Homo sapiens: one gene and its partners. The protein of the gene in region 1 purifies or fractionates together with the protein of each later gene. This does not show direct contact. Each region holds a gene or a part of one and is shown in the gene's direction. Other genes may lie near its edges. The genes, in order: HACL1, PTPRF, TMEM67, NT5E, ASPSCR1, PLXDC2 and MME.

Region 1 (3,500 bases):
GTGTTTTACACATACGAACTGATTTCATCCTCACAGCAGTGCTTTGAATTATTTTCATTTTATAGATGAAGAAACAGAGATTTAGAGCAACTTGCCAAAATTACACAGTAGAAAGTGGGGAAGCTGGGATTTAAATCAAAACAGATTGGCTCGAGAGTCCACTCTCTAAGTACCATGTACACTGTTCTGCCTGTGAATGGAGGTAGTTTAGTAGAGGAACAGATCTTTTATGGTCATAAAACCAGTTATGGCCAGGCGCGGTGGCTCACGCCTGTAATCCCAGCACTTTGGGAGGCTGAGGCAGGCAGATCACCTGAGGTCAGGAGTTTGAGACCAGCCTGACCAACATGGAGAAACCCCGTTTCTAAAAATATAAAATTAGCCAGGCGTGGTGGTGCATGTTTGTAATGCCAGCTGCTCGGGAAGCTGAGGCAGGAGAATTGCTTGAACCTGGGAGGTGGAGGTTGCCGTGAGCCAATATTGCATCATTGCACTCCAGCCTGGGCAACAAGAGCGAAACTCCGAAACTCTGTCTCAAAAAAAAAAAACAAAACAAAACAAAATAAAACAAAACAAAACAGTTACCTCTCAACTTTTGACATTTCCTACCAGAGGAATATACTTTTTGTTACGTGTTGTTGTATATTTTGCATTGCCTAGCAACATTTCTTACCTAGCTATCATAAGTGGGCAATTCTTTTGGGTGTCTAAATAAAGTGTTCTTATTGCAGCAGGTATTTACATGCCTGCATTTCTTAGGAGTTGTCTTATTCTCCTAATGTGAATTTGGCCTTATGTGCAAAAGGAAAGAGAGATGGGGCCAGTAGAGAATAGCGACACAGGAAAAGAGCAGAGTCTTTGTGCAGGTTCTCAGTGGGTGTATGATAGTAGAGCCAGTTAAGATTATGATCCATAAACATTTCCTTTTTTTTTTTTTCCACATTTATGTCGTTAATGTGGAGTTCTTTAAGACAGTATACTACTTCATTTAAAGCTGAATGAAGGCTAGGAAATACGCAATTCATTATTATTTCTAAAGAAATGAGAAGAAATAATACTGGGAAAAAAATGATGTCCCAGACTAAGAAGAATTTGAGAGAGCACTCAGCATTTTCCCAGGTTATCTTGTGTGCATTTAATTTAGTGCCCCCTCTCTTCCTGATTATGAGCTGAAGTAGAGTTACAAGGTAAAAACTATCCATATGCAGGCCATAAAGGAAATCTCAATAAATCGCCAAGGATTGAAAGCGTGCAGTATATGTCACCTGACCATGTGGAAGTAAAGTGGAACTCAATAAGAGATCACTAAAAAGAATCTCAGACCTTTGGAAATTAAGCAACATACTTTTTGGTATTTTGTAAATATTTGAAAAGATTAACAAAATGAATAAACTTCAAGATAGACTGATTGAGAATAAAAGAGAAAACAGATTACCAATGTCAGGAATGAAAAAGGAGGTATCACTACAGATCCTAATTAACCAATGGGTTGAAGAAGAAATCACAATGGAAAGTAGAAAATATTTTGAATAGAATGATAATGAAAAGATGCAACTCAAACTTGTAACCTATAACTAAAGCAGTTCTTGGAATCATTTTAAACAAATTATTAGTAAAGAAAATTAAAAACCAGTGTTCTAAATTTGTATTTTAAGAAGCTAGAAAAAGAAAAGCAAATCAAATTCAAAATGACTGAAATAATAAATACAAGAACAGAAATCAATGAAATAGAAAACAAACAATAGAGAAAAACCAACAAAAATTTTCGAAGAACTAAAAAAATTTGTTCTTTGAAAAGATGGATAAATTTGATAAACCCCTCATGAGACTGATGAAGAATAAAAGAAAGAAAACAAATTACCAATATTGTTAATAAAAGAGGACATTCCTATTGATCCTGCAGATATTTAAGCAATTGTAAGAGGATGTTTTGAATAACATACATATGAACAAATTTCCTGAAAAACTAAAATTTAGATAACCATTATTTGAAATTTATGTGTAGAACATTTATTACTAAGGTTGGAAATATTTTAATTCTGCCTTTACCACTATGTTCTTGTCTATTATTTAATAGTAAGTTGCTGTCATAAATGTACTATAAGGATCCCAATATGCTCAAGTCCCAGTGTTGTTTTCTCGTAGGCTTGTTATGCTGCCTCCGCGATTGGATATCTGACAAGCAGGTAAACTAAAATTTGTTTCACTTCAATTACTTTAATATTTTGGGGTAGAACTATTACGTCTTTCAGCTGAAGGATGAGTTCATTTGGAAAGATTATAGAAAAATATATTAAATAACAAAGGATAAAAAACATTTAAAACTCTCTGAGGACCACATCAAAAGAATAATGATACCAGAAGTGTTTCAGAGTGGAACACATTGCCATTTTGTAGAGTGAATCACTGGTGATCAGATAGTGAGTTGATGTATGATACCTTGTCTTGGATCTCACAACTACCCCAGCACACTTAATACAAAAATGCTTGGTTCAAAATGTGACTGTTGAGAGCTGTTCCACACGTTCTGATTTTTTAGTGTGTATCCATGTTACCTAACTACCACCCCCTTTTTATTATTAAAAATTAATACATTTTTAAAATGTCCATTTTGGAAAACTTGGAAAATATAGAAAGCACAAAGAAGAAAATGAAAATCGACTAGGCACGGTGGGTCACGCCTGTAATCCCAGCACTTTGGGAGGCTGAGGCAGGTGGATCACCTGAGGTCAGGAGTTTGAGACCAGCTTGGCCAACATGGTGAAACACCATCTCTACTAAAAATACAAAAATCACCCTGGTGTGGTGGCATGCGTCTGTAATCCCAGCTACTCGGGAGGCTGAGGCAGGAGAATCGGCTTGAACCCAGGAGGCGGAGGTTGCAGTGAGCTGAGATTGCGCCACTGCACTCCAGCCTGGGTGATAGAGTGAGACTCCGTCTCAAAAAAAAAAAAAAAAAAAAAAAGGAAAAAAGATGAAGAAAATCACCTATGATCTCAGAACTGTTAAGAATTGGTCATTTTCTTCCAGTTTTTTCCCTTATCTATGTATTTTTTAAGCAGAATTTGGACTCTCACAGGAATGTGTATCATACTTTTTTCACATATGTTAGTTTTAATACATTTTTTTATTTCCAAAAATGAAACTAGTAATTCAGTTGCTAAGAAATGCAAACTAATAAGATTCTCAAAGTCTAGACCTCACCAGAATAGTTTTTTTTCTGTGATAAGGAACTTGTGAATTTGAACCTGAAAAAAATAGGCCATCAAGTAACACTATTGTCACTGTTTTCTGCCGCTTTATTTACATATGACAAATATTTTAATCTTTTCATTTAGCTTGGAAAGCATTTAAATTATAGTTATTAATTAATGCCTTAATGTAAAAAATGCTAGAACAATGATTAAGAGAATGGTTAAAAGTTCATACTTTTTTTTTTTTGAGATGGAGTCTTGCACTGTTATCTGGGCTGGACAGTGCAGTGGTGCAATCTCGGCTCA
Region 2 (3,500 bases), on another chromosome or scaffold:
CCCGAGGACCTGCCCAGCGGCTTCCCCCAAAACCTGCATGTGACAGGACTGACCACGTCTACCACAGAACTGGCCTGGGACCCGCCAGTGCTGGCGGAGAGGAACGGGCGCATCATCAGCTACACCGTGGTGTTCCGAGACATCAACAGCCAACAGGAGCTGCAGAACATCACGACAGACACCCGCTTTACCCTTACTGGCCTCAAGCCAGACACCACTTACGACATCAAGGTCCGCGCATGGACCAGCAAAGGCTCTGGCCCACTCAGCCCCAGCATCCAGTCCCGGACCATGCCGGTGGAGCAAGGTGTGTGCTGTGGACATGGCATCCCTTCCCGAGTGTGGCTGCATCTGGGGGTCTCTGCTCTCCTTGAGCCACTGACCTCTGGCGACTGTGATCCACCAGCCTCTGGTGTGTGACCTCCAATCTCTCATGACTGTGACCACTAACCTCTAGTGAATGGGCACCACATTCTTGATGCCTGACCTCTGCTGTCCTTAACCTACTGACCTCTGCTGTATGACCTTCTGATCTCTTGTGACCTTGACCCACTGATCTCTTTTGACTGTGTCACTATTCTTGGGTGTGCAACCTCCTGATCTTTGGTGTGTGACACTAATCTCTTGGGGCCATGACCCACCGACCTCTAGTGAACATGCTCCACCACGCTCTGGTGTGTGGCCACATGCTTCTCATGACCGAAACCCACTGACCCTCTGATCACTCTGGCCTGGTGTCCATCGGCTCAAGCTTTTACACTCGCGTTTCTGGAGATTCTGACCCTGGTTGCTGTGGCATCCCCCGCCCTGTTTGGTGCTCACTGTGGAAGAGCTTGGGCTGGGAGTTCAACTGTGCCGTTTGAAGCTGGCTGGGAGTGGGGCGCTTGGTACTCTGCAGCCATCCTTCAACCCCCTGTTCCCCAACCAGTGTCTCATCCTGGCCATTCACCTTCCACCCTTCCAGCCCATTCACCCCACCTCATATACCCAGCAGAGCTGACTCTCTCTATGCCTTTGCAGTGTTTGCCAAGAACTTCCGGGTGGCGGCTGCAATGAAGACGTCTGTGCTGCTCAGCTGGGAGGTTCCCGACTCCTATAAGTCAGCTGTGCCCTTTAAGGTGAGTAAGGGCCACGGCCAGCTGAGCCTGGCACACACACAGGCCTGCTGGGTGCTGTCTTTCCAGTCCTAACCCATGTGCATCCGGCTGTGGAGCAGGAATGTGGTTGTGTATCCGTGCACTGTGCCTTGCAGCCCGTGGTAGGGAACCTCACCCAAAGGCATTGATTGCCCCTCCCGTCCCCCACAGATTCTGTACAATGGGCAGAGTGTGGAGGTGGACGGGCACTCGATGCGGAAGCTGATCGCAGACCTGCAGCCCAACACAGAGTACTCGTTTGTGCTGATGAACCGTGGCAGCAGCGCAGGGGGCCTGCAGCACCTGGTGTCCATCCGCACAGCCCCCGACCTCCTGCCTCACAAGCCGCTGCCTGCCTCTGCCTACATAGAGGACGGCCGCTTCGATCTCTCCATGCCCCATGTGCAAGACCCCTCGCTTGTCAGGTGTGCACACGAGGTATCGGGGGAGGCGGGGCAGGGCTGGAGGTAACCAGCAGTGACAGTCCTGATTCCTGCCCTGCCCACCCAGGTGGTTCTACATTGTTGTGGTGCCCATTGACCGTGTGGGCGGGAGCATGCTGACGCCAAGGTGGAGCACACCCGAGGAACTGGAGCTGGACGAGGTACCTGGGGAGGGGATGGGGACACTGACAGCCCCATTGCAGTGGTCAGCTGTGGCCTTCCTGCCCTGAGCACTGTCCCAGTGACTCTCAGATTCACTCCCCAAATTGAAATCTCTCTTCTGGCTGGCAGCCCGCCCCTCTCTGGAGAGAGGGACTCTGAGGAAACCATCTGGGAGTATTCACAGAACTCCCGGAGGGCTTACGAAGAATCCCTGGGGTGGGATGTCGTGGAGATGCCTCTGCAGGTCTAGAGAATGCCAAGCCCTGTAGACACTGCAGAGCCTCGCAGATCTAGAAGCTATGGAGGGCTTAGTGAGCCTTATAGCCAGGAGTCCCTGAATGTTTGAAATCCTTCAGTCCTTTCTCATAGCCAGTGTGGCAACAGCCTGGTTAGGGTGGGGCAGCTTACACACAGGGCTGCTTCTCATGGGCTGGTGGGGAGGAGTGGCTTCACGGTGTCTGTTACTCTGTAGGGGCAGTGGGTTGGGCAGGTGTGGGCTCTGACACGGAAGGTGAGCCTTGATCTCGGCCCAGGGAGCTGACATCCCAGGCCACAGCCTCAGGGCTGGCCGGCATGCTCCAAGGCCCCTCATGACCCCCATGCTCTGCTCTGCCAGCTTCTAGAAGCCATCGAGCAAGGCGGAGAGGAGCAGCGGCGGCGGCGGCGGCAGGCAGAACGTCTGAAGCCATATGTGGCTGCTCAACTGGATGTGCTCCCGGAGACCTTTACCTTGGGGGACAAGAAGAACTACCGGGGCTTCTACAACCGGCCCCTGTCTCCGGACTTGAGCTACCAGTGCTTTGTGCTTGCCTCCTTGAAGGAACCCATGGACCAGGTCTGCCTGAGCCGGCTTGGCTGTCAGCACCCTGATTCCCTGGGCCTGGCCTGAGACGATGCCAGTCTCAAACACCACAAGACCCCAGGTCTTTATCAGTTTGGGGGCTTCGAGATCCTGGGGCAGCACTAAAGACCCAAGATCTGTCCCGGGGATCCTAAGACGCGGCCCTGGGACCCAGAGGCCAGACCTAATGTGGCTCCAGGGACCCAGTCCTGCCAGGTCCACCTTGTAGGGTCTGGGAGACCAGGCCCAGGGTAACCCAGACCCAGAGCCCTTTCTCCAGGATTAATAGGCAGAGGGTGGGGGGTTCTCACGCTGAGCTCACAGCCTGCTGTTCTCCACCGGGCCACAGAAGCGCTATGCCTCCAGCCCCTACTCGGATGAGATCGTGGTCCAGGTGACACCAGCCCAGCAGCAGGAGGAGCCGGAGATGCTGTGGGTGACGGGTCCCGTGCTGGCAGTCATCCTCATCATCCTCATTGTCATCGCCATCCTCTTGTTCAAAAGGTGAGCACTGCCCTCAGAGCTCCGGGAACGGCCACCTGCCCCTCGCCTTTCAGGCCCTCTCCGGGTGTGGTGCCTGTGGAGAGCGTGCAGCCTTGCATCCTGGACCCTGAGCCTCAGGCTCAGCAGGAAGGCAGGAAGGGCAGGAGCAGTGTGTGTGCCTACCTGTGTCTGCAGGCCTGCATCTGTCAGGTGAGGGAGCCTCTGCAGCAGCCTGGGCGTGAGGAACTAAAGCCTCAGAGGGTTGTCTCATGTGCATCCCTGGCACGTCTGTCTGTCTCTGTGTTTCTGTGGATAAGAGTGCGTCTGTCTCCTCTTCAGTTTTAAGACACCGCCATCTCCTGAGCTCCTACCTCGAGTCCTTTCCTTCTGCCACCATTCCTGGATGATTCCCCAGCCCTACTCTCCTGCTTAGGC
Region 3 (3,500 bases), on another chromosome or scaffold:
TCCCCAGTAGCTGGGACTACAGGCACCCACCACCATGCCCAGCTAATTTTTTGTATTTTTAGTAGAGACGGGTTTCACCGTGTTAGCCAGGATGGTCTTGATCTCCTGACCTCATGATCCGCCTGCCTCGGCCTCCCAAAGTGCTGGGATTACAGGTGTGAGCCACTGTGCCCGGCTGACTCCTGTGTCCTTTCAACATTTCCCACCCCACCATTTTTTTGAGCACTTCCTTACTTGTTCACAGTGTTTTTGAACACCGATGACAGAAATTACATAAATTCTCAATTGTTCTTTTGTTTTTTAGATTGCTTTGGGTGTATTGGGTGGGCTAGCTGTTTTAGCATCTCTTTTGAAGACAGCAGGATGGAAGAGGCGCATTGGGAGTCCCATGATTGATTTACAGGTATAATCTCAGGAGTTTTTTAAGAATATTTTTATCTTTTGACCATTCTGGATCCTTCTCATAAGACACAGCTAGAGAATAAGTAAAAAAGTTGCATTGAATTTTTCTGGGATATGTAATTAGGGTAAGTATTGCTGGGTCATATGGTATATGTGTACCTCATTTTCTTCCCACCATACTGTATGCCAGTCTATATTCCCACCAGCAATGCTCTTCTTATTTCTGCACATACTTGGCAACACTTGATATTTTTCCAACCTTTTCATTTTTTGCCAACCTCATGGCATATAGTAGTATGTCATTGTTGATTTCATTTTCATTTCTCTGTACTCTTCATATACATTTTAATCGTTTGGGTTTCTCCTTCTGTGAACTGCCTGTTTATATCCCTTGCCCATTTCTCTATTATGTTTCCAGTTTTTATTGTTTATTTGAAGAATTTTTTTTTGTATTTTCTAAATAGTAACCCCTTTTTGGTTTCTGATGTTGAAATATATGACCAAATAAATATGTGACCCATCCGTTATTTTTATCCATGTAGTCCTTTGTTTAACAGAAACTTTCAGGTTTGTTTTTGTTTTCATTTTTGTTTTTTTTTGTTGTTGTTTTTTTGAGACGGAGTCTCACTCTGTCGCTGAGGCTGGAGTGCAGAGGCACAATCTTGGTTCACTTGCAACCTCTGCCTCCCGGGTTCAAGCAATTCTCCTGCCTCAGCCTCCTGAGTAGCTGGAATTACAGGCGCACACCACCATGCCTGGCTAATTTTTGTATTTTTAGTAGAGACGGGGTTTCACCATGTTGTTCAGGCTGGTCTTGAACTCCTGGCCTCATGATCCGCCCACCTCAGCCTCCCAAAGTGCTGGGATTACAGGCATGAGCCACCACGCCTGGCCAGAAACTTTTGGTTTTGATATCATCATATCTGAATATTTTTTTTCATGTTATGATACGTGCTTTTGGGATCTTGTTTAGGAAAACCGTCCCTATATCAAGATCACAAAGATAGTCCACATTTTATTCTATTAACTTTATACTTTCACTTCATGGTTAACCTTTTATTTTTATTAAACATTTAAAAAATATTTACCATGTACCAGGCACTTTTTAAAGCTTTATGTATGTAATTTTCTGAATCCGCACAGTAGCTCTTTGAAGTTAGGTTATTATTATTATTTGCGTTTTACACGTGATGAAATTGAGGTAAAGGTTAAATTTTCTACTCACTTGATTTTTGCAACTCAGTAATAGGTATTTCCGTTTTGTTGATGAAGAACATGAGAAAGGTTACATGGTAGCTTTAACCAAAGTATCTTTCTGATTCCAAAGCCAGTGGGCTAAGGAATCAGCAGGGGTACTTGATTTACTACTTGGGATAGTCCAGAAAGGCTTCCCAGAGAAATGAACTTTAAGTGGGATTATCTGTTCATTCTATAATAGTCACTGAGGCTCTATTGTCTAAGTGTCTGGCACTCTACCAGGAGCTGGAGAATGTGTTAGTGAGCAAAGACAGACATAGTCTGTGCTCTCAGAAATCATGAGAACTTACCAGAGAGGGGAAGAGAAGAATATTTGGTAAAACAATGCCCATTTTATTCCAGAAAGTATTTGAGATGAACGTATGGAGTGGTTAGTCATTGACTACATGGCTGGAACTGGCAGATGAGGCTAAAAAGTTAATTTTGGCCCATATTGTGAAAGACCTTGTGGATCAGGAATTTATATTGCAATGAGGAGTTGTTCATTTTTAACAAGGGGAGTGACACAATCCAATTTACATCTTAGAAAACTAACTCTGGTGGTAGTGTGGAGGAGAGATTAGAGGGGAGGATTCCCAACTAAGAGAAAATTAGGAAGCAGTTCAATTTTCTTAGATAGTGAAAGATGAGAAGAGTTGAAAGAAGAGGCTACCAGGAACGGCCAGAAAGGTAAGGAGCCAAAAGGTAGCAAGGAGGAGGAAGCAGGTGGTCTTTATAGCTGGATCATATGGGGATATGTGAAACAAGGCTTCAGGCTTAAGAAATGGAGTGGATGATGTATAAAAGTGGTAGTGTTACTAAAAGTGGTATATACATGGAGTCTTAAACAGCTGTAATTCTTTTTTTTAAATTGCAGACAGTTGTGAAATTCTTGGTGTACTATGCTGGTGATCTGGCCAATGTTTTCTTTATCATCACAGTGGGAACAGGTCTTTACTGGCTTATTTTCTTCAAAGTGAGTGAGTTTCTGAATTTTCCCCAACTGCCAATATCTGAATAGTTGAAAAGCTTTCTTTATAAAGGAACTATTTTTATTTGAGAGAATTTTTGATCAACAGTATTAAGAAAAGTTCCCAACTCCCCATTCCTTGAGTGTGCTGAGCTTATCGATTACATCACTATCTTCCTCTTTTATGCTTTCTTTGGTTTATAAATTGTGCTTAGTAAAAACCTTGTTCAATTGGAAGACTTAGGTGGGAGGATCCTGTGAGTCCAGAATCAAGTCCTGCCCGGGCAGCATACTGAGACCCTCCTTTCCCAAAAAAAAACAAAAACGAAAACAAAAAACAAACAAACAAACAAAAAAAACTGTGTGTGATAATATTTAATCAAGTAATTTTTATTATAGGCACAGAAGTCTGTGTCTGTTTTGCTGCCAATGCCAATTCAGGAAGAACGTTTTGTCACTTATGTTGGATGTGCCTTTGCTCTGAAGGTAAGTTTTAAAGGACAGGTTACCAAATTTAAAAGGCCTGCTAATGAACTAACAAGTCTTTAAAATTAAAATGCTTTCAAAAATCTTTGGCGTGAAATTCACTTTGGTTTTGAAAGAAAGCATTAATTATTTTATGTGGTAAATTTACTTTTATTTATAGTAGATGCTCAGTCTGAAACTCTGCCTTAAATATTTTTTTCAAAGAAGCCATGAATTTGTATGGCTTATTTGATAAAATGATATTTCAGTATATAACTTTCTTTAAAGTCTGATGATACATTCACAATGGGACAAAATGTCTTCAGGCATGAATTTTGTCTCCATTAATCAAGGGTAAAAGGTACCACTCTGGATAAAGTGTTGAGATCTTAAAAGTTGTTTTGTCTGTCTCCAGATTCCTTTGCTC
Region 4 (3,500 bases), on another chromosome or scaffold:
CTCTTTCACAGGCACAGAAAGACAACACACAGTTTTAATGGTAATAACAAGTCCTATGGCTGAGCAAGACCAGGTATGAAGAACAAGCCCGTCTACTTGTCACCAGGCGGAATGGCCATGGTAGCTCTCTGGGGGCCTTACTGAGCCAAGGTCTCCTATGTCGGACTACTACTTCCATGGGCTCACAGCCTGCACCCAGGGAAGTCATTTCTGTCAGTGCTTGGCATGCATTGCCCAGTGCCCAGGATACAACTGCACTCGATAAATGTTTGCCGTGTAAATGACAACAATCATGCTCATGCCAAGACCAGACTCATGATGTCTCCTCAGCATCATGCAGTCAATGCCAGAGAAGTAGTTAAGGAGAAGCTGGTATATAAATGTTAAGAGAAGTCTGGAGGGAAACAACCCAGGCTGTTGGCAGTGCTTATCCACTCTGTTAAAGAGGCTAGGACAAAGGAGAGCTTTTGCTTTTTATTTATTTATTTATTTAATTAATTAATTTATTTATTTATTGAGACTGAGTCTTGCTCTGTCGCCCAGGCTGGAGTGCAGTGGCATGATCTCAGCTCACTGCAACCTCCGTCCCTTGGGTTCAAGCGATTCTCCTGCTTCAGCCTCCCAAGTAGCTGGGATTAGAGGTGTCCACTACCACACCCAGCTAATTTTTGTATCTTTAGTAGAGACGGGGTTTCACCATGTTGGCTAGACTGGTCTCGAACTCCTGACCTTAGGTGATCCACCTGCCACAGCCTCCCAAAGTGCTGGGATTTACAGGTGTGAGCCACTATGCCTGGCCTTTTTTTTTTTTTTTTTTCGGCTTTTTGTCTCCTAAATGAGAATATATTCATTTTATTTCTTATAACTAAACATATATTTTGTAAAATAAAAGTAAGAATGGATGTGATTCTCCCCAGCTTCAAAAGGCTGTCTCTGTCTTTCCAAAATTGCCAACTTGGGAATCAGCTGCAGACATAGACGTGGAGGCCAGGTTCTCTTTGGCATGAGGTCTGGTGTTGAGCAGGCTCTAGGGCCAAGCCCTCAGAATCAGGCAGAGGGCATGGCCTGCCCTGGAGAAGCCTGTGCAGGAGTGACTCTGCAGGCCACCTTGCATGGGAGGCCCAGTCCCGACACCAGGGCTACAACCGAGAGACCATTTTGCTAAGGCCACCTGGCCTGACAGTATGGGAGTTTTAGGAGGGGGAAATAAGAGTTTGACATGGACTGGTAACAGTATATTTTTACTTCTGGGAGCATAAAATTAGTTCTAATTATAGTTGAGAGATCCCTGGGAACACAGCAGCAGGTGAAAAGCAGCTTTATTTCCTCACTAGAGCTAACCAGATTCCTGGAGCTGATCCTAAGGAAGAAGAGCCAGAGTAACTAGTGTAAATCTGTGCTACTGTTGCAGATTAACAACAACCTGAGACACACGGATGAAATGTTCTGGAACCACGTATCCATGTGCATTTTAAATGGAGGTGGTATCCGGTCGCCCATTGATGAACGCAACAATGGTATGCTCCCAGGCCCAGCTCCTCAGTGTGTCATGTTCTCTCTCTGATCTCCTTTTCTGTTATGGTTCTTGCCCTGAACACACCCATGTGCAGCCTCAGTTCATCTCTGCTGCCAGCCATGTACCAGAATGTCAGTCCTTTAAATTAGGGTTAGCCATTATTAAAGTCTAAAACCTAGCCTGAAGGACACACACAAGCTTGTGTGTTCTTATATGTATTCACACACAGAAGCTGCAGGTAAGGTTAGTGGAACTCAAACTTGGTCTGAATTTCTGACTTACAAAGCTATACTAGTTGTTTCTGATTTATGCAAAATAACAACAGTCACCACCTTGGCATCTGAAAAGAGACAAAATCACCAATCTTCTGTCCTGAAAAAGACATACCACTGGATTAAAATGTTACCTTAGTATATTTACAGATATCCAAGATTATATCATATGGCAAAACAAATCAACTACACAAATACTCAAGACACTCTTGTAGCCCTCCCTGATTTACTGTGAAAACCAATCAGTATCAGTATAAGGCCCCAAACGCATCCCATTGTCAGACAACAGGGACAGGTTGCAGGGGCACATTGTTTGTCTGGAGGAACGGAACAATGCAAAACAAACTACTGGAGATCCAGCCCCAAGCTAGCAGATCTAAGACTGAGCATGGTGAACTTCTGAGGCACAGCCATTTGTGAGCTCCCGCCATCTTGCCCAGTGGTGGAGTGCAGGGCCAGAGGCCTCCTAAACTCATTCCCTTCCTCAGTGTCAGGAACCACTTAGACATAGCTAATGATGCTCTATAAGCTTCCCATGTCCCCCTCATTTCTTCCCCCAGCGCTGAGGGAAACTGGTCATGGTGTAAGCATTTTCTCAAGCTATTTTCCTTCTTGCCTCATCTGTGACTACCCTCAGGCACAATTACCTGGGAGAACCTGGCTGCTGTATTGCCCTTTGGAGGCACATTTGACCTAGTCCAGTTAAAAGGTTCCACCCTGAAGAAGGCCTTTGAGCATAGCGTGCACCGCTACGGCCAGTCCACTGGAGAGTTCCTGCAGGTGGGCGGTAAGTCACCCATCCTGTAGGGCTGGCCCATCCAAAGTGACATGGCATTTCCTGCTGGTTGGCTCAGCTTCCCCTTCACCAAAATTCCTGTGGTCAAACTGGTTTGGATTTTTCCCGACCCAACACCAATACCTTACCCTTTAATGGCTGTGGACTCTCAGAGCCACTAAGATTAGGTTGGGGTCAAAGCCCCAAAGCCCCAAAGCCCTGGCAATAAGCAGTATTTGCCAAGTCTGATTTGGACATCAGATGGGCCCTCTAAGCAGGTCACCTGCTTTGAGGTCTAGTTTCTAATAAAATCTTATTTAAGCATTCAATTATTTTTTTTTTAAATCCTCTCCTCTGTTCTACTCATCGTTGCCTGGAACCATGCCAAGATTTAAAGGAATGCTGTCCAATCTGTATTAACCAGGATGATTCCTGGAAGGAGCAGCCTACTGCACAGACATACCTGAACACCTGGTTCTAGTCCCACTGTGACCTGGGGCAAGTTCTCAACCCCTCTGGGCACAGGGAGAAAACCTTTCCTGTTTATCTCATGGACTGCAGTGAAAGTTGAATGGAAATAAATGCTTCCTAAATTGCCAAGGGCTTCTGAAACACTTTTGTTAATAATTCCACAGTCCAGTGAATTAATCCTTTAAAAGCAATCTTATTTTACCTGGAAATCATAATCTGGCCTCATTTTTTTAACCTTAGGTTGTGGTCCCGCTTGACAGATAGAATTGCTTTCCTGAGTTTTCCTCTGCAGAACACATTGCTGTTGAGACTGAAGGGCTACAGAAGGCAGTGGGGCCCTGTCCTAATGCCTATGGGGCAACCCAAACATCCTCCATTTTCCCAGAAGGGAGTTGAGGGAAAAGCAGTTTTCTGATGCTCTAGCAAAGCACTGCATAGCTCTATGCCTTGTGGAAGTCACCAAATC
Region 5 (3,500 bases), on another chromosome or scaffold:
CTGTGGCCAAGAGGGCAGCGGGGGCAGCTGGACTGGGGTTTTTGCCGACGCTCTAATTTGGCGGCTGTCGCCACCCCTCCCCCCCATGGAGACCCTGACGTGGCCTGAGCCAGACTCCAGGGGCCATGTGCCCTGCTGGGGAGCAGGGGCTCAGCATCAGGTCTGGTGCACTGACTGGGAGAGGGGGGTCTCCAGCCCTGGACAGGCTCTGAGTGGGGTGGGGTCCCCCAGCTGCTGTGCCCAGCCCTGCCCCCAGGACCTGGCCTTGGCCCTGCGCTGGCCGGGGCCAGGGAGGGAGTGGGCCCAGCTCCCAAGTCTGTGTGACCACCTCGGCTGGGGCACTGACAGCCCGGGGTGCGGAGGGCCCAGCCCGTGACACCCGCCGTCAGCCGCGCCCTCTGCCTCCAGCCCGTGGACCGGGAGCCCGTGGACCGGGAGCCGGTGGTGTGCCACCCCGACCTGGAGGAGCGGCTGCAGGCCTGGCCAGCGGAGCTGCCTGATGAGTTCTTTGAGCTGACGGTGGACGACGTGAGAAGACGCTTGGCCCAGCTCAAGAGTGAGCGGTGGGTGCCCCCTCAGTGCCTCCCGGCATCTTCGCGCCAGGGTTTGCCCCATCGGGTGCTTGTGCTGCCCGCTGTCCCCAGTGCCAGCACTGGCTCCCGGCCCAGGTCCCTGACAGGCTGCCCTTAACAGGACCTCAGAGGGTTGGGGCCCAGGGAGGGGCGTCCAGACCTTCCTGCCTTGTGTGGGGAGAGCAGCCCACTCCCACCCTGGAGGGTGCAGGTGAGGAGCCCGGGGCCTGTTGCCAGGGCCCCCATTCTGACCAGAAGCCCTGTTCCTTCCCCTCCTCACCACAGGAAGCGCCTGGAAGAAGCCCCCTTGGTGACCAAGGCCTTCAGGGAGGCGCAGATAAAGGAGAAGCTGGAGCGCTACCCAAAGGTCTGCAGACAGGATGTGGGGGCGACTGAGGCACAGCTCTGAGGGGGCCCCCCGTGAGGTCTGTGGACGGGATGGGGCGACTGAGGCACAGCTCTGAGCGGGCCCCCTGTGAGGTCTGTGGACAGGACGTGGTGGCGACTGAGGCACAGCTCTGAGCGGGCCCCCTGTGAGGTCTGTGGATGGGACGTGGGGGCGACTGAGGTACAGCTCTGAGGGGGCCCCCTGTGAGGTCTGTGGATGGGACGTGGGGGCGACTGAGGCACAGCTCTGAGCAGGGCCCCCCCGTGGTGGCGCGCATGCCCTTAGTGGCCAGTTGATCCTCCCCTGCTCATGATTTAGAATGAAACCTTTTTTTTTTTTTGAGACGGAGTCTCTCTCTGTCGCCCAGGCTGGAGTCAGTGGTGCCATCTCAGCTCACTGCAAGCTCCGCCTCCCGGGTTCAAGTGGTTCTCCTGCCTCAGCCTCCCAAGTAGCTGGGATTTCAGGTACCCGCTACCACTAGCTCGGCTAATTTTTGTTGTTTTTTTTTTTTTTACTAGAGATGGAGTTTTACCATGTTGGCCCGGCTGGTCTCGAACTCCTGACCTCAGGTGATCTGCCCGCCTCGGCCTCCCAAAGTTCTGGGATTACAGGCTTGAGCCACCACACCTGGCTGAATGAAACTTTAAACAGCACATTTGAGCCGGGCGTGGTGGCTCACGCCTGTAATCCCAGCACTTTGGGAGGCCAAGGTGGGCGGATCATGAGGTCAGGAGATCGAGACCATCCTGGCTGACACGGTGAAACCCCATCTCTACTAAAAATACAAAAAATTAGTCAGGAGAGGTGGCGCACGCCTGTAGTCCCAGCTGCTCGGGAGGCTGAGGCAGGAGAAAGGCGTGAACCCGGGAGGTGGAGCTTACAGTGAGCCGAGATCATGCCACTGCACTCCAGCCTGGGCGACAGAGTGAGACTCCATCTCAAAAAAAAAAAAAAAAAAAAAAAACCAGCACATTTGAACCCAGGTCAGTGTGGTTTTAGAACGCAGGCCGCTGTGCACACACACGGCACTTGGCTGTCTCCATGCCCAGCCTGCCACGGGGGAGTCAAAGCCCAGGCCCTGATTGGGGGTGGCTGCTTCTGCCTGCCTCAGCCCTGGTGTCCATGGCCCAGCATGGGCCGAGTGGGGAGGCCACGCCCTGGTCCCTGGTGCAGCTCCGGCCGTCCCTCCAACCCTTCCACTTGTCTGGCCTAGGTGGCTCTGAGGGTCCTGTTCCCCGACCGCTACGTCCTACAGGGCTTCTTCCGCCCCAGCGAGACAGGTGGGCAGCGCTGTGGGGTGTCCGGGGATGGGGGGCAGGGGCCCATGGGGCCTCTCCCGGCTCCTTCCTTCCAGGCCACAGGACTGCAGCCACCTGGCCTGCGGGCTCCAGGGCACTGGGTGGGTGCGGGTGCTGATGTCCCCTTGGGGGTGCAGAGGCATCCCAGTTCGCAGAGTGTCAGGCAGGCTGGGCGCTTGCTCCAGGTGCCCGGCCCCAGCTCAGGGAGCCCGTGGTCCTGAGTGCTCACGTCGCCCACCTACTGGGCATGGGTGGGGCAGAGGGGCACCCAGAGGAAGGCACCCTACCCCGGGAGGAGGGCAGTGGTGCTGTGACATTCAGGGGCTTGTGACCTGTACCCAGACGGCCGGGCGGCAGCAGCCCAAGGTCACAGGGGCCTCCCCCAGGGAAAGGGAAGCGCTTAGGCTGGGGCGGGGGTGGGGCTGGGGGGCAGCGGGTGGCAGTGGGAGTGCTCTCCAGCAGGGCGGGGGTCCCAAGTGTGGCCCGCACGGTGGCCCAGCCACGCCGAGCACCTGGAGTGCTGTGGGAGGAACAGGGCTGAATTCCCACCCCTCGGGGAAAGGCCCAGGAGGGTGGGAGCAGTGGCCCAGGTGCTGGGGCAGCCCGGGGCTGGCGTGGTGGAAGAGCTGTCTGTATGTTCTTTTTCTCCTCTGCAGTGGGGGACTTGCGAGACTTCGTGAGGAGCCACCTGGGGAACCCCGAGCTGTCATTTTACCTGTGTACGTTTTTTCTCCTGAGCCCACTCCTGCCTCCAGTGCTCGGGGCCTTGGTGCTGTGGGCACACCGCCCGTCCCAGCTGGGGCTCGTGGCAGCTTCTCCACAGGAGCAGCATCTGTGGCCTCCCGCCCAGGTGCCTCCTGCAGCCCATGGTGTCTGTGTGGAGACCTAGGAGGGCCCTTCTCCCCGAGCCAGGCGGTGGGAGCCAGGCTTCCTGCCTTCTCTCTCAGCGCCCTGCTCCCCTCTGGAGCCCTGCTGCACCCCAGCCTGGTCCCCACCCCTGGGGCTCAGGCCACTCCTGCCCGAGGGCTGTGGGAAGGGTGGGTGGACAGGGAGTGGCTGGCCTCCCTTGGAGGGTGTCTAGGTGGCAAAGGGTTAGGCTGCCCACTGCAAGGGGAGCCGGGCTGCACGGGTGGTGTCCCCTGCAGGTGGGCCTGCCCCCCACCGGCCCTTCCGAGCCCTCAGCTGGAGTTTCTGCAGCAGGAGTGTGGGCACAGGGCGTGCTCGTGAGGGGCTCTTCTGCCC
Region 6 (3,500 bases), on another chromosome or scaffold:
AGTGATTTGGTTGCCATGTGCGATCCTAACAGTGACATCCTAAGGAATGAGTGATTATTTAGCAACCCTCTAAATATTTCCCTGCTTCTCCAGTTGCGAGTTCTATAGAAGAGTTAATGTTATGCTAAACTGAAAATGTGAGAATGAACTACCTACTAATCTTTTACTTTTAATTTCTGTCCACCACCCTGCACCCTATCCTTCCTTTTCTGAACTGCATTGTGGTCTTCTTTGAAGATGTTCCAGTGGATTTGATCGTCATCGGCAGGACTGGGTGGACAGTGGATGCCCTGAAGAGGTACACATGCTTTATTGTGACAGAATCCTGGGACCAAGCTGTCATATACATGTGTTTTAACTGTTAATAATTTTTATTCAAAATTTATGCCCTAAAACTTAATGAAAGGAGAAGAATCCTTCTATAAGCCCAATGTCTGCAAATATTAGGGGTTCGATAACAGCTGGCTATTTTTGTTAAATTAGATAACATTTTCATTACATTGTAGCAACTTGCTACAACCCCTAATAGATGCAGACATGGGGCTTAACTATTTATATGTATTATCTCATTTCATTGTCATATTCATTCTATGAAGAACAGTGCCTGCACTGTCACTACCCCCATATTACCAAGGAGAGAAAGGGGAGGAGTGAGGGGAGCTTGTGGGGAGGGGTGAAGTGTGGGTTCTTGGAGAGTCAGGTAAATGGCTAGGGAATAGTAGGGCCAGGATTGGAATCTGTAGAGGAGTTCTCTTAAATGCTTGCTATTTTTCTAGGATGTACGAAACCATTGTTCCTCTTTGTAATTCAAACAGCAAGACCAGTGGTATTGTGGAGGGTGGAAGACTGCAGCAAATTGATGTGCTGTAATAAATGAGAAATTGTATAACATTAGTTGGCATAGAGAGATGGTATAATGTTAACTCTGAGGGAAACATGATAGAGACAAGGATGCAGTGAAGTCGTGTAAGCAATTGGATACCAGAAACAATTTTAACCCGTTTAAAAGCTTTGCAGTGACTCGCATTTATACTATCATTTCAAGATCATATAAAGATATCCTATAAAGTTTATGAAGAAAAGCATTTACTTCTTCTCCCTTCATTAAGTTTTGGGGTATCAATTTTGAATTAAAACTGCTAACAATTACAAAAGTTTAGCAAAGCAAGCCATGCCAAAATGCTGTTTTAAAAACTATTTGTTCAATGGTTACTTAGAGACTTTTTAAAAATTCATTTTTGGGGGGCATGTTTCATAAAGATCTTGAGCAATACATTTTTAAAAACATTCTTGAACTTTAAATGCAGTATTGCCAGTGTAGCTATAACCAACCTTTTGGCATTTCATTTAGGGAATGACAGCAGTGTGTGCTCATCCGTCTCACCTCACTTATCTAATAACGTAGTTCCAAAGAGTATCTATTGACAAAGCCATAGTTGTGTTTTGAGACAATCATTTCTTTCATATAATCAGTTACCTCAATATAAAATGTTGAAAATGAATATCTCCATATATGTAAAGATTGAGAATGTAATTCAGATGTATATTTTTTCTCCCAAATTTGGTTTATCTTTTCATTTTCTCTATGATTTTATTTCACTAACATTAATTATCAATTTAATCTGTCAAATGTATGAATCTTTTATTTTTATGATGAGTTTTATATGCCTGTGCATCTTCTTTTAGAAGAATTTTCCTACCAAATTCCATCTAGGTGTTATTTTTGTGTATTTTTTTCTGAATATTTTAAAGCTTTGTCTTACACGTCAAAATCTATTCCATTTGGAATTGGTTTTTATGTATTATATAAGGTAGAGATTCAGTTTCGTGGGGTTTTTTTTCTTGATGGATAGCCAAATTTCAAGCACCATTTGTTAACTAATCCTTTCTTTTGGCAATATCTTGCAAAGTCACCTGTTTTATGTATATTTTCTGGGCTCTCCTCTTCTAAAGCTCTGTCAGTACTTAGATCAGTGTCCCACTGTATTAATTTCTATTGTTTTATAAGAAATCTTACTATATACAGGACAAATCTCCTTACTTTTTCTTCTTCACAAGTGTTTGGGTATTTTAGGGCTTTTGTCCTTCATATAAATATTAAACTCACCTTGTCGAGATCTGTAATCCATCTATCAATACATCTTACTAACATTTTATTGGAAATACATTAAATTATGAATTAGATCACATTTCCTAATTACAGAGGCTTTTAAAATTTACCTTTTTTACTATTGACTTCTAGACTAATTGAGTCATCATCAGAGAACATGTTATGATCTTTAAAGTTGATTGGAAATTTTTCATGAACAAGTACATGGGCATTTTGTACAAAGGGTCTATGTGTGTTCAAGAAAAATGTGTGTTTTCCTGTTGGTTGGGTGTCAAGCTTGATAAATGTACTCTTCAGCTATACTTCTCCACTCTCTTTATTTTCACCTTCTGACTTCTTTGAAAGCTTGCCATTTTCATCTTTTCCTCATATTTTTAAACCTCTATTATATGTAATCTCTTTCCTTATTACTCTGTGCTGTATTTGGAGCAATTTCTTCAGATGTATTTACCGGTTTATTAACTCTCCCTTCATCTTGTTTAATATTCTATGTAATCTACTCACTGAAGTAGAAATTCCAACAAACATTTTTCATATCTAAAATTAAATTTGACACTTATTACATCTGCCAAGTATTTTATAGTTTCATGTGAACCGTTCATTTCTCAATTTTATCTTTTATGATTTTAAATATTCCGTGTATGATTTTTGTATATTCCATATTGGATGATCCCATTATCTAAAATTTTGGTGATCTAAATAGTGTGGTCATTGTTTTTGCTGATTCTTTCTCAGACAGCTATTTTTTTTTCTTTTTTAGTGTATATTTGTCTGATCCTATTCTAAGACCTAAATAGGTGATGTTTTCCCCCAAAGAAGATTTGATGATGGGATCCTCAGGATTTTCAGGCTACCATAAGTCTCTGCCCTAATGTGAGGAGGAGAAGTTCAGATTTTTCTCCCCTGTCTACTACTGCTGCAAGGCTTGTTCTCTTTAGAGCGATATTGATTTTGGATTTTTTTCCTCAGGGCAAATTCTGCTTTTTTAACTTCCCTTAATGTATACAGCTCCTACTGTCTTTATAGCACATAGCTTTTGCTTTGTTTTATTTTTTGAGTGGGGAGGGGAATAAACAATGGAAAGGCACCATTGGGATATTCTTTACCTCCTGCAAATCCTAAGGCTTTAAAATTCAAGTTTTATTCAGAATCTACTTGTTTTGTTATAGGAGGGCTATTTAGTTCCTTAGTCTGCCGTTACTGCCAAAAGCAATCTGAGCCTAGGATTTTACCTTAAACGTAGGGTGTTTACTGAACATTATTAGATCCTGTTTACGGAATACTAGGTCCTGTTCATTGACAGTAGAAACACAAAGAGAGAATAATATATGGCAAGTTCCATTCTATACTCCTTGAGTTTGAGATGTGTGTGACATTCACATGCAGACAC
Region 7 (3,500 bases), about 140 Mb from region 1:
GTTTAAAGTTTTTAACACATCTCCAGTTGAGGTGAAAGATTTTAGGAATACAGGTATGTTTTTGCATACCCTGCTTTATACAGGACTACAAGTATCAACTTGGTAACTTTTTGTACTATTTTGTTTACTTATCCCCCTTACTCCCCTCTTAAATGGGATTGGGCGTGGTTAGGTTGGATATTCAGGTATCTTTTGGTACAGTGAGTGACCATTTTCAGAATGTTGTCTAACCAGTTAATAGATACTGGTATCAGTAGTAGTAGTAATTTTGAACTGTAAAAATAAAGGTTGTTTTTATGACTAAAATAAACTACTTCATGTGTTCATTCGTTTTGCTGTTTATCTATATTAATATTTCAAATTATTGCTTAGTCAAAACCTCAAGGTATTAGTCACTGGTTTTTGAGCTTATAAAGGAAGCCACTGGAGCAAGATATAAAATTAACCATTGATGTTAGTCCAGAGTTCAAAAGGGTGAGTTTAAAACTTTCTTAATGATGGTACAGCAATTATTTGCTTATAAACTGCTGAATTAATCCTACTTGAGTATTTAACCAAGTCTTACTGTCTAATTTTGCTGAGATTTTCAGTGATATACCAAAGCAAAACAAAACAAAACAACAGCAACAAAAAACAAAAGGTTGTGACTGAGACCTGTCAAATTCATTTGGCTCTATATACTTTGCATTCAGCAACAAAATTTTGACTTCTCAACAGCAAAAATGTATTTCTATTTTAAAATAACTGAGCCTTTTACTTTTATCCAGCCACATTAAGCATTTGGACATTTTCTTTTTTATTTATTTGTTTTTCATTATTAGTATTTTCATTTTTTGCAGATTTTAGGTGATGGGCAAGTCAGAAAGTCAGATGGATATAACTGATATCAACACTCCAAAGCCAAAGAAGAAACAGCGATGGACTCCACTGGAGATCAGCCTCTCGGTCCTTGTCCTGCTCCTCACCATCATAGCTGTGACAATGATCGCACTCTATGCAACCTACGATGGTGAGTTACTCCCACACCTGTGCATCCATAAGTGCAAAAGAGAAGGAAATCTTCCTCCATGCTTTTACCATCTATCCAACGAATGTGTTAAGGATAGAGGCACTTAAAGACTGACAAAGAGATTCATTTATAAAATGTAACATCAATATGTCAAAATAATTAACTTTGAAGTACGGTGCCTTTTATGTTTGAGCTAAGTTATTAATTGCAAGTATATTTAGTGCGCTCACGCTTACTTATGAGGAATCTAAAGTATGGTTTTATTTGATTAAAATATACACAATTTTATGGCCAGCTTTAGTAATAGTCATTAGTCAACTTTTGTTGTGTCATTGAAATTCTAAACGGCTTCACAGGAATTTAACAAATTTAATTTGAGTCTTGGAAGTTTTTTACAACAAGGATGAAAAAAGATTGATTGTTTAATGGTTAAAAAAATGATTACCAAGCAAAAACAACTGATTATTTCAATTTAATAGGCCTGGGGCTTCGTTGGTAGAGAAGATATAATAACACATTTTTCTTCATAATCAAAATTTTAAATTTAGATTTTACTTATTTTATTTTCTTATATTTTTTCTAACCACTGACAATGATATATAATGTTCAGTTTTTAGTTCTTGCTTTAAGAAATTGCTTATTTAATTGGCAGTTTTTAAAAGAACAAAAGAAAAATAGAAATTTAAAAATTTGTGTTGCCAATATTTATGTATATTCTCTCCTTTTTCTAGATGGTATTTGCAAGTCATCAGACTGCATAAAATCAGGTAAGAAATGGTTTTTACGTGTAATAGTTATACAACTGATGTATAATATTTAAAATTAAATGCTAATCTTAATTTGCTTTGTTTACACTTTTATTCATTGTAGATCAATTATTTATGTGTCTGGCTCTATAATCAATGGAAATAAAAATATATTTAAGTAGTAGATTAATTAACTTGTTTACTCTGAAAAATATATTACTATTTTCAGCCCTGGGCTGTATAGCAGGGCAATAGAAAACTATATCGCTATTTGTATGGAGCTTGCCATGTAGTTGAAGAAAGAAAATGAACACATATGAAATGGTAAGTTTCGTATCATTGTGTTAAATGTCTCAGTGCACCTCACTAGGTGGGTGAGAAGAAGGGAGTGAGATGTAGGCATGTAAATCTAGGTGGAGAAGTTAAAATCTGGGAAGAAATTTCATTTTATTTATTTTTTTTATTTTTTATATTTTGAGACAGAGTCTCGCTCTGTCGCCCAAGCTGGAGTGCAGTGGCGTGATCTCGGCTGACTGCAATCTCCGCCTCCCGGGTTCTAGCAATTCTCCTGCCTCAGCCTCCCAAGTAGCTGGGACTACAGGTACCCACCACCACGCCTGGCTAATTCTGTATTTTTGGTAGAGACGGGGTTTCACCATATTGATCAGGCTGGTTTCGAACTCCTGCCCTCAGGTGATCTGCCCCCCTCGGCCTCACAAAGTGCTGGGATTACAGGCGTGAGCCACCGCACCCAGCCTTAAATTTGGGAAGAACCTTGAAGCAGGGCTAGAATTTAGATGTGGCGGTGCAGAAGAGGGAATTCCAAACACAAAAGAAAGAAACTATGTTATTGAGAAGTAGTAAAAGTGTACGCTTGATAGAAGGACACATTATGGAGAACCTTGAAATCCATGTTTAGCCTTGATATTGTAATACAGGAGAAACAGATATTTTTGAACAGAGGAGTGATCAGGCCAAAGGTGAAAGATGATTCTGCGAATGTGAGGTTGACTGGATTGAGTGAAAAGGAGGGCAGGCAGGTGGGGGCTGCTTCTGTACTCCAAGTGTAAGCTGAAGAGGTTGGCCTGTGGTGAGAGAAGAGTACTATTGAGATAATGGGGAGGGAGAATTGGGTGACTCAGTAGAACTGACTTGCTAAATAAAATGAATGAATTGAGAATGATGCCAAGTTTTAAAACCCAAGGGACTAAAGAGAATGGAGGCAGCCCACACAGAAATAGAGAGGTTATGAGGTGGATGTGGATGTGTTTGGTCTAAGATGAAAATAGACAGGAGGAAGGTAGAGATGAGGTTTAAGAAGCTGGAATTTGGATTTGAGATCTGTCAGTTTAGGAGTGATAGTGGAAGCCTTGGAAGTATTTGAGTTCTCAAAAGAAGAGAAGAGGTTCAAGGGCTAAACTTAAGAAGAGGTTCAAGGGCTAAACAACATCAATGATTAGAAGAGAAGAAAAATAAGTCAGAGCAGAAAACAGAGAAGTGTATGAAGCTATATAAATCCCATCAATTGGAGTGTGGTGAAAATGGGAGTATTTCTTCTTTCTTCAAGAAAAAGGAAGGTGGTAGCTGAGGGCAGCACCTGGGATATGAACACAATATTTGTGTCCTTTAACAAGAGATTCTAAACCTCCTTTCTAACATCTATGTGTCTTATAAGAAATAAATAAACTGTTCCAAATAATTTTAACCATTTTCTGCTGGATATTTTTAATTTTATTTATTTATTT

Evidence for each region.
Region 2: the proteins of HACL1 (region 1) and PTPRF fractionate together in Homo sapiens (co-fractionation; one large-scale study listed by BioGRID). This does not show direct contact.
Region 3: the proteins of HACL1 (region 1) and TMEM67 fractionate together in Homo sapiens (co-fractionation; one large-scale study listed by BioGRID). This does not show direct contact.
Region 4: the proteins of HACL1 (region 1) and NT5E fractionate together in Homo sapiens (co-fractionation; one large-scale study listed by BioGRID). This does not show direct contact.
Region 5: the proteins of HACL1 (region 1) and ASPSCR1 purify together in Homo sapiens (affinity purification with mass spectrometry; 2 studies listed by BioGRID and IntAct, with this or other methods). This does not show direct contact.
Region 6: the proteins of HACL1 (region 1) and PLXDC2 purify together in Homo sapiens (affinity purification with mass spectrometry; 2 studies listed by BioGRID and IntAct, with this or other methods). This does not show direct contact.
Region 7: the proteins of HACL1 (region 1) and MME fractionate together in Homo sapiens (co-fractionation; one large-scale study listed by BioGRID). This does not show direct contact.

The regions. Positions count from the first base shown.
Region 1 is NC_000003.12:15,595,070-15,598,569, reverse strand, and holds part of HACL1 (2-hydroxyacyl-CoA lyase 1), read left to right. Parts: intron 1-2,145; coding exon 2,146-2,186; intron 2,187-3,500. UniProt on the Homo sapiens protein: Peroxisomal 2-OH acyl-CoA lyase involved in the cleavage (C1 removal) reaction in the fatty acid alpha-oxydation in a thiamine pyrophosphate (TPP)-dependent manner.
Region 2 is NC_000001.11:43,603,883-43,607,382, forward strand, and holds part of PTPRF (receptor-type tyrosine-protein phosphatase F isoform 1 precursor), read left to right. Parts: coding exon 1-307; intron 308-1,020; coding exon 1,021-1,118; intron 1,119-1,307; coding exon 1,308-1,561; intron 1,562-1,646; coding exon 1,647-1,740; intron 1,741-2,357; coding exon 2,358-2,576; intron 2,577-2,931; coding exon 2,932-3,086; intron 3,087-3,500. UniProt on the Homo sapiens protein: Possible cell adhesion receptor. It possesses an intrinsic protein tyrosine phosphatase activity (PTPase) and dephosphorylates EPHA2 regulating its activity.
Region 3 is NC_000008.11:93,792,894-93,796,393, forward strand, and holds part of TMEM67 (meckelin isoform 1 precursor), read left to right. Parts: intron 1-304; coding exon 305-403; intron 404-2,515; coding exon 2,516-2,614; intron 2,615-3,007; coding exon 3,008-3,094; intron 3,095-3,500. UniProt on the Homo sapiens protein: Required for ciliary structure and function. Part of the tectonic-like complex which is required for tissue-specific ciliogenesis and may regulate ciliary membrane composition.
Region 4 is NC_000006.12:85,488,083-85,491,582, forward strand, and holds part of NT5E (5'-nucleotidase isoform 1 preproprotein), read left to right. Parts: intron 1-1,411; coding exon 1,412-1,517; intron 1,518-2,425; coding exon 2,426-2,575; intron 2,576-3,500. UniProt on the Homo sapiens protein: Catalyzes the hydrolysis of nucleotide monophosphates, releasing inorganic phosphate and the corresponding nucleoside, with AMP being the preferred substrate. Shows a preference for ribonucleotide monophosphates over their equivalent deoxyribose forms.
Region 5 is NC_000017.11:82,008,629-82,012,128, forward strand, and holds part of ASPSCR1 (tether containing UBX domain for GLUT4), read left to right. Parts: intron 1-408; coding exon 409-563; intron 564-857; coding exon 858-939; intron 940-2,173; coding exon 2,174-2,240; intron 2,241-2,914; coding exon 2,915-2,977; intron 2,978-3,500. UniProt on the Homo sapiens protein: Tethering protein that sequesters GLUT4-containing vesicles in the cytoplasm in the absence of insulin. Modulates the amount of GLUT4 that is available at the cell surface. Enhances VCP methylation catalyzed by VCPKMT.
Region 6 is NC_000010.11:20,211,432-20,214,931, forward strand, and holds part of PLXDC2 (plexin domain-containing protein 2 isoform 1 precursor), read left to right. Parts: intron 1-237; coding exon 238-298; intron 299-3,500. UniProt on the Homo sapiens protein: May play a role in tumor angiogenesis.
Region 7 is NC_000003.12:155,083,319-155,086,818, forward strand, and holds part of MME (neprilysin), read left to right. Parts: exon of another isoform or gene 1-724; intron 725-839; 5' UTR 840-849; coding exon 850-1,009; intron 1,010-1,740; coding exon 1,741-1,776; intron 1,777-3,500. UniProt on the Homo sapiens protein: Thermolysin-like specificity, but is almost confined on acting on polypeptides of up to 30 amino acids. Biologically important in the destruction of opioid peptides such as Met- and Leu-enkephalins by cleavage of a Gly-Phe bond.